Homo sapiens: one gene and its partner. The protein of the gene in region 1 purifies or fractionates together with the protein of each later gene. This does not show direct contact. Each region holds a gene or a part of one and is shown in the gene's direction. Other genes may lie near its edges.

Evidence for each region.
Region 2: the proteins of FAM86B2 (region 1) and RFFL purify together in Homo sapiens (co-immunoprecipitation; one large-scale study listed by IntAct). This does not show direct contact.

The regions. Positions count from the first base shown.
Region 1 is NC_000008.11:12,426,318-12,430,136, reverse strand, and holds part of FAM86B2 (putative protein N-methyltransferase FAM86B2), read left to right. Parts: intron 1-1,022; coding exon 1,023-1,156; intron 1,157-1,238; coding exon 1,239-1,504; intron 1,505-2,330; coding exon 2,331-2,480; intron 2,481-3,819.
Region 2 is NC_000017.11:35,057,077-35,060,895, reverse strand, and holds part of RFFL (E3 ubiquitin-protein ligase rififylin), read left to right. Parts: intron 1-3,819.

The DNA.
Region 1 (3,819 bases):
AATAGGTGACACACACTACCTGCTTCACAAGGACCTGGTGCCCAGTCCTCAAAGAATACTTGACAGGGCTGGACATGGTCTCTCATGCCTGTAATCCCAGCACTTTGGGAGGCCAAGGCGGGTGGATCTGAGGTCAGGAGTTCGAGACCAGCCTGGCCAATATGGTGAAACCCTGTCTCTACTAAAAATACAAAAATTAGGCCAGGCGTGGTGGCTCATGTCTGTAATCCCAGCACATTGGGAGGCTGAGGCAAGGGGATCACCTGAGGTCAGGAGTTTGAGACCAGCTTGGCCAACATGGTGAAAATCCATCTTTACTAAAAATACAAAAATTAACGGGGTGTGGTAGTGGGCGCCTGTAATCCCAGTTACTCGGGAGGCTGAGGCAGGAGAATCTCTTGAACCCGGGAGGTGGAGGTTGTAGTGAGCCGAGATCGTGCTATTGCACTCCGGCCTCGGCAACGAGAGTGAATCTGTGTCTCAAAAAAAAGTACAAAAATTAGCTAGACATGGTGGCACACGCCTGTAGTCACAGCTACCTGGGCAGGTGAGGCAGGAGAATTGCTTGAACCCAGGAGGCAGATGTTGCAGTAAGCCAAGATCGTGCCACTGACTCCAGCCTGGGTGACAGAGCTCAAAAAAAAAAAAATGAGATAAAACATAGATACAGAAAACCACAAAGGAAAAACATAGCATATTGAATCATCACAAGGCAGCCACCTCTTCATAGCCACACCTGGCCCCTGGCCACCACTGACCTGTGCTCCATCGCCAGAATTCCGTTGTCTCAGGAATGTTCAATAGATGGAATCCTGTGTGGCCTGAGATGAGTGTCTTTCATGCCGCGTGACACCCTTGAGGCCCGTGCAACTGTTGGTATGTCAACAGTTAGCTGCTTCTCATTGCTGAGTGGCGATTGGTCCTGTCATGGTTTATTCAGCCATGTGGTGGATGGCTACTTGTCTTCTAAGCCACTTGCCTTCTGATCGCTGGACTGACTCTCTCGCCCTCTCTTGGTGCAGTCCTCAGGAGGCTCAGTCACACTCTCCAAGAGCACAGCCATCATCTCCCACGGTACCACAGGCCTGGTCACATGGGATGCCGCCCTCTACCTTGCAGAATGGGCCATCGAGAACCCGGCAGCCTTCATTAACAGGTGACCTTGGGGCACAGGGCAGGGCACCGAGGCAGGCTTACCCTGGTGCAGTCGAAAACACGGTCCCCTTTCCTCCCGCCAGGACTGTCCTAGAGCTTGGCAGTGGTGCCGGCCTCACAGGCCTTGCCATCTGCAAGATGTGCCGCCCCCGGGCATACATCTTCAGCGACCCTCACAGCCGGATCCTCGAGCAGCTCCGAGGGAATGTCCTTCTCAATGGCCTCTCATTAGAGGCAGACATCACTGGCAACTTAGACAGCCCCAGGGTGACAGTGGCCCAGCTGGACTGGGACGTAGCAATGGTCCATCAGCTCTCTGCCTTCCAGCCAGATGTTGTCATTGCAGCAGGTAATGCCCAGCCCCGGGCATCCTGTGCAGGCGGTGTCCTTGCAGCTCTACCCAGCTCTTGGCTCTGGGAAAAGGGAACAATGGACACTGTCGGGCATGGACGTGATGGGGCTTCCAGAAGAGTTACTCTGGGCCTCCAGGGTGACATCAAAGGACAGGGGTGCCTCTTAAGGTGACCTTCAAGCCACAGCCCTGTTGTTGGAGACAGGCATACTCCCGTTACAGTCGTCACCACATGGCTCTGTCCCAGAGCCATGCCCTGTGTCCTTCAGAGACCGCAGGAGGAAAACAACCACTTCTGGTACGAGGTCAGGGCCCTTGAGAGAAGGTGCTGTTTGGCTGGGCCACCGAAAACCCCTCACCCCTGTGAGCACACTCAGTCCCCTCTCTGGTGGAACAGAACTCTGCCTGTAGTCCTGGGTCCCAGCCCTGAAACCCACAGGTCCAGCGGTGGCCAGGGACACAGGCCCACCCCTGCAAGCCAGCAGACCAATCGGCAGACACCTGAAACACGAAGTTCACGGCAGGGTCAGGCTTTCTGTCATTGAAAGCCCTCTAGACAGGCCGAGAACCAGAGCTGGTTTTTTAAGGACACCAGTGAGTCTGGAGATTTTTTTCTTTTGCTTCGGTCTTTTGCAGCTTTCTCTAATAAGGGTTCTCCTTTTTCACCCAAATAATTGCCTTTCCATCTAATGGCCCAAATGGTCAAATGGCATCTAATAGTCTCATATGACCGCTGCCTCTCTGGCCTCGCCCTGCTGCTGAGGTCAGCATGAACTGGAACTTTCCACTTGTCCCTTTCAGTAACCTGAAACTTTCACCGTAGACGTGCTGTATTGCCCAGAAGCCATCGTGTCGCTGGTCGGGGTCCTGCAGAGGCTGGCTGCCTGCCGGGAGCACAAGCGGGCTCCTGAGGTCTACGTGGCCTTTACCGTCCGCAACCCAGAGACATGCCAGCTGTTCACCACCGAGCTAGGTGAACCCCCACGCCCACCCGGGCCTACATGGTGCCCGAGCTGTCCCTGCAGGACTCCAGTGGAAGTGAAAGAACTGGGCGCTGGGGAAAAGCTAGGATGCTCCACACTCCCACACTATGCGGGGAACTCGGGCAGAGGCCGGTGAGCAGGGTGGGCTCGGGGCGTGGGGGGCTTGAGGCAGGAGGAGGACACCTCAGCACAGGGAGGGAGGGTCTGAGCCCAGCAGCCCTACTATGTGCTTCAGAGCAGGGTTCCCTAAGCCCTTGGGCCTCGGTTTCCTCATCTATAAAATGGAGGTGGCGAGAGCGGCAGTCGGGGTCAGGGCTGGACACAGCTGTGGACTGCAGGACGCTGGAGCACAGGCTGTACAGGCGGATCCACCACGCCACTGTCCTGAGCACCCAGTTGATGGAAGACGAGCAGGGTGACTATAGAGAAGGGAAACTGGCCCCGTAGTGGGCCAGCCACTGTCCTCAGACCTGACATTTGTCAACCCCCAGCACCTGTGAGGGTGTGCTGTCATTGTCCCATCTCACCGACAAAGACACTAGGACACACAGAGGCCAAGTGACCCCCGAGCTCCCGCAGACTGCAGCCCGGCCACCTGGCTCTCGTGCCTCCACACTACACCCAAGCCCCCCATTGCCACCAGCCTCTGCCCCAGCTCCCCCTGAGCACAGCCCCTCCTGGCAGCCATGTGCACAGATGTACCCGCAGCAGCCTCTGCCTGTACACAGAGACATGGATGACCCAGTGCCTGTCCACGTGGGGCAGCCCATTAACTACAGAGTCAACAAACAAGCCAGCACATGAAGGCATACTGGGTTCCATGACAGAGTCCCACACAACCTCGCACAGGAGGCTGGCCGGGCGCGGGGCTCAGGCCTGTCATCCCAGCACTTTAGGAAGCTAAAGCAGGAGGACTACTTGACCCCAAGTGTTCAAGACCAACTTGGGCCACATAGTGGGACCCCATCTTCACAAAACATACAGAAACTAGCCAGATGTGGTTGCACACACCTGTAGTCCCAGCTACTCGGGAGGCTGAGGTGGGAGGATGGCTTCAGCCCATGAGGTGGAGGCTGCAGTGAGCCCTGATCTCACCACTGCACTCCAGCGTGGGTAACAGAGCAAGACCCTGTCTCAAAAAAGCAAAAAAGCAAAAAAAAAAAAAAAAAAAAAAAAAAGGAAGTCTTTCTTCAGATACTTACGTGAAAAAAAACCTGCAATATCTTTTAAGTGAAAAAAACAGTGCCAAGCAGCACACATAGTATAAGCCTCAACCAACCTTTTTTTTTTTTTGAGACAGAGTCTGGCTGTGCCCGGCCACTTTCTAAG
Region 2 (3,819 bases), on another chromosome or scaffold:
GACAGCACTGTCTGTCTCTTCCACTAGACTGTTGAGTTCTTTGACTGAACTTGGTGTCCCTGGACTAGAGCTTGGCACCATCAGAGAGAGTGGCTGACGTGGATCTCCGGGCTCAAACCGTTATTCTTTGCAATATTAGAAGCTTTTTTGTTAGATGGCATGGTTTTTCATTCCTATTTGATGAACATGAGCCCATGGCTGCTTATTTTGTATGTGTTACCTGCCACCATCAAGTAATCATTCAAAGTTAATTTGAAGATTTAAAGGGTTTGCTGAGATCTAGTCCCGCAATATCACGACATTTTTATGGTGTTTTACAAAATTATTTCCCTCATATGGTTTTATTTGCGTTGGGTAGGCTTTATTTATTATCCCTATTTTACCAGTGATTATAAAGCTAGTCTGATACCAAAGCATATATACATTTAGGTAAGACTCAGAGAGAAAACATGGTTCTTACACTGCATTAAGCAGCTGGTTTGTCTCTTAATATAGTAGTTAAATATACTCTATCAGGTTCCACAGAAATGGTGCCTTTGCTCGATAGGCAAGTGCTAACGGTCTTGCCTTTTACAAGGCCACTTTATCATCAAGGTAGGAGGAGGAGGTACTCTGAACCTGCCTGACCTATGGGAAGGCCCTGGTTGTGGTTAGAGACCTTGATTGAAATTAATGGTGTGCGTACTCCAACCTCTCAGGTTTTTCTTTTATACTTCAAATATCTGGAAGTTGTGAAAACCTGCTGCCCTGGTGGAGTATCAAACCAGGCTGGTGAGTGAAAGCGGTCATCCCAAAATGGAGTAAGCTGAGTGTTAAGGGCAGAAAACCTTTTACAGTTATAGTAAGTAATTAACTTTTTAGATCACTTCACAACTTTTGGAGTGCTAAAATGCCATATTTGGGACTATGAGAAATTCCATTATAAAAAGCTGAACCATTAGAGCTAGGAAATAATCTCTGTTAGATATTGGCATATGGTGTTCAATTTTGGGTCTCTCATACTTGAGAGGATAATTAAAATGATTAAAAGGTTGAAAAACAGGTCTTATCATTATAAGTTTTAAAAAGGGGGGAAAGATTTTAGCCTAGAGAAAGAAAAGCTAAGAGATAACTTCATTATCATCTTCAAATACAAGAATAGTTTTGCCAGGGGGATTTTTATTAATTATTCTTCATGAACTTCAAAGATTTAAGAGGAAATGGTCTTAAATTGAAGGAGGAGCAATTTTGATGAATACGAGAAAGAATTTTTTGATCATCAAAGTGGGGAAATGTTTGAATGACTGCCCAAGAGAGTGTTGAATTTCTGACTGTTTCAGTTGTCTATTGTGTGACAAATTACCCGAAGACTTTTGGTGGCATAACATGACAACCATTTTATTGCCTATGATTTTGTGGGTTAGTAATTCAGGAAAGGAGGACATATTTTTTTTTGTCCCATATGATGCTGATTGAGCTGGAGGATCCAAGAAGGCTGCACATGTCTGTACCTTTGGAGCTAGCTGTTGGCTGGGATATCTTGGTTCTCTGTGAGTTCTCTTTCTTGGTCTCTCATCACTTATAAACCTATATCGAGTGGCCGAGCGCAGTGGCTCATGCCTGTAATCTCAGCACTTTGGGAGGCCGAGGTGAGTGGATCACCTGAGGTCGGGAGTTCCAGACCAGCCTGACCAACATGGTGAAACCCCGTCTCTACTAAAAATACAAAAATTAGCTGGGTATGGTGGTGGGCACCTGTAATCCCACCTACTTGGGAGGCCGAGGCAGGAGAATTGCTTGAACATGGGAGGCGGAGGTTGCAGTGAGCCAAGATTGTGCCATTGCACTCCAACCTGGGTGACAGAGCGAGACCGTCTCAAAAAAAAAAAAAAAAAAAAATTCTAGCTCGAGCTTCTTTTACATGGTGGCTGGGCCATAATGGAAGCTGCAGGATCTCATAAGACCTAGGCCTGGCAGTCATACATCATCACTTTTGCCCCATTCTTTTTGTCAGAGTAAGTCACAATTATAGCCCAGATACAAGAGGAGGGGACATTGACTTCACCTCTAAAGGATAGAGGGTAAAAATCACATTGCAAAAGGGCATGCAATGTGATTGGGATTATTACTACCAACTTTATTTTTTGAAACAGAGTCTCGCTCTGTCACCCAGGCTGGAGTGCAGTGGCGCAATCTCGGCTCACTGCAACCTTTGCCTCCCGGGTTCAAGTGATTCTCTTGCCTCAGCCTCCTGAGTAGCTGGGATTACAGTTGCTTGCCACCACGCCTGGCTAATTTTTGTATTTTTAGTAGATACGGGGTTTCACCATGTTGGTCAGGCTGGTCTTGAACTCCTGACCTTATGATCTGCCCGCCTTGGCCTCCCAAAGTGCTGGGATTACAGGCGTGAGCCACCGCACCTGGCCTACCACCAATTTTAGATACAATTTACCACACTGACCTTAGAGATTTTTCATGAAAGAATAATCAATATATGTTTATTAAATGGGTAGTTTGGGCATATGATTTACAAATTTGGCTGCATATAGAGTCATCTGGGAGCTTTTTACAAGCATAAGCTCCTAGGTACCAGACCAGTGACTCAGTGTCTCCTGGGGGTGTTGTGTTGGCACATAAGAGACACTCTATGTCCTTTCTTTCAGGTAACTATCAGTAAAATGAGTATGGTGGGGGGGGATAGATAGATATAATATGTAAGGCAAGATGATATGTACATTGAGATAGATCTCATCTCTCCTGCTTCTAGGACTTGATTGAATCCTATCTAGCATGCTCTTCTTTCCAGTCTGCCTAGTGTAAATTATATTTCATTAAATCAGCCCATCATCAGAACAGTGTTTCTTGATGCCTCTCATTTTTTTCTCATGTTTTCTGGCATTTTTCCTTCATTACTTTTTTTTTAGTTCATAATTCAATATTTATATGATTGTTTGATGTATAATAGACAAAAATACATCTGCTTTGCTTTCGAGTATCTAACATAGTGTCTGCCTCATAAAAGGCACTCAGTAAGTACTTGTTGAATGAATAAGTGGTTGATTGAATGCATGATTGAATGAAGTGATATTTGAATTTAGCTTTAAAGGTGATTGGAATTTTGGACAGGTAGAGCAAATGAATGGGAAATTTATTGTTCTGAAGTGGAAACTGGATCATATTGCTCATGTAATTTCAGAAAACTGGAGAAACTGGTTTGGGAAAATGGAAGAGTTGGTTTTATATCTAGTATGCTAAGTTTGAGGTATGGAAATTTAGCAGGCATTTAGAAATGAAGCACTGATCTGAAGGGTGAGATTGATTCCAGATATTCACTTTTGGGAGTTACCTGACTGGAGAATGTGAAATCTGTTCCTTTCACAAATACCTGGTAAGCTCCTACTGTGTGCCAGACAGCTATGTTATAGGGAAGGTGAACTGCAGTCTGAGAAGGAGCCAGTCTTGTGAAAAGAGCTAGGGAGAATGTTTCAGCCAGAAAAGGAACCCAAGTTTGTAGGCCCTGGGGCAATAAATAATTTATAATTTTTGAGGAATTGAAGGAAGGTGACCGAAGGACAGAGCAAGGTGAGTGAAGTGGGAGAGCTGCATGAGGTAAAGTGGAAAAGGCAAGCAGAGCCCACATCACATGGGGACTTTGTGGGCTAGATAGTGAGTCTAGCCTTCACTCAAAAGTGTGGTGGGGCTGGGCATGGTGGCTCACACCTGTAATCCTAGCACTTTGGGAGGCTGAGGCAGGTGGATCACCTGAGGTCAGGAGTTTGAGACCAGCCTGGTCAACGTGGTGAAACCCCATCTCTACTAAAAATATAAAAAATTTTAGCC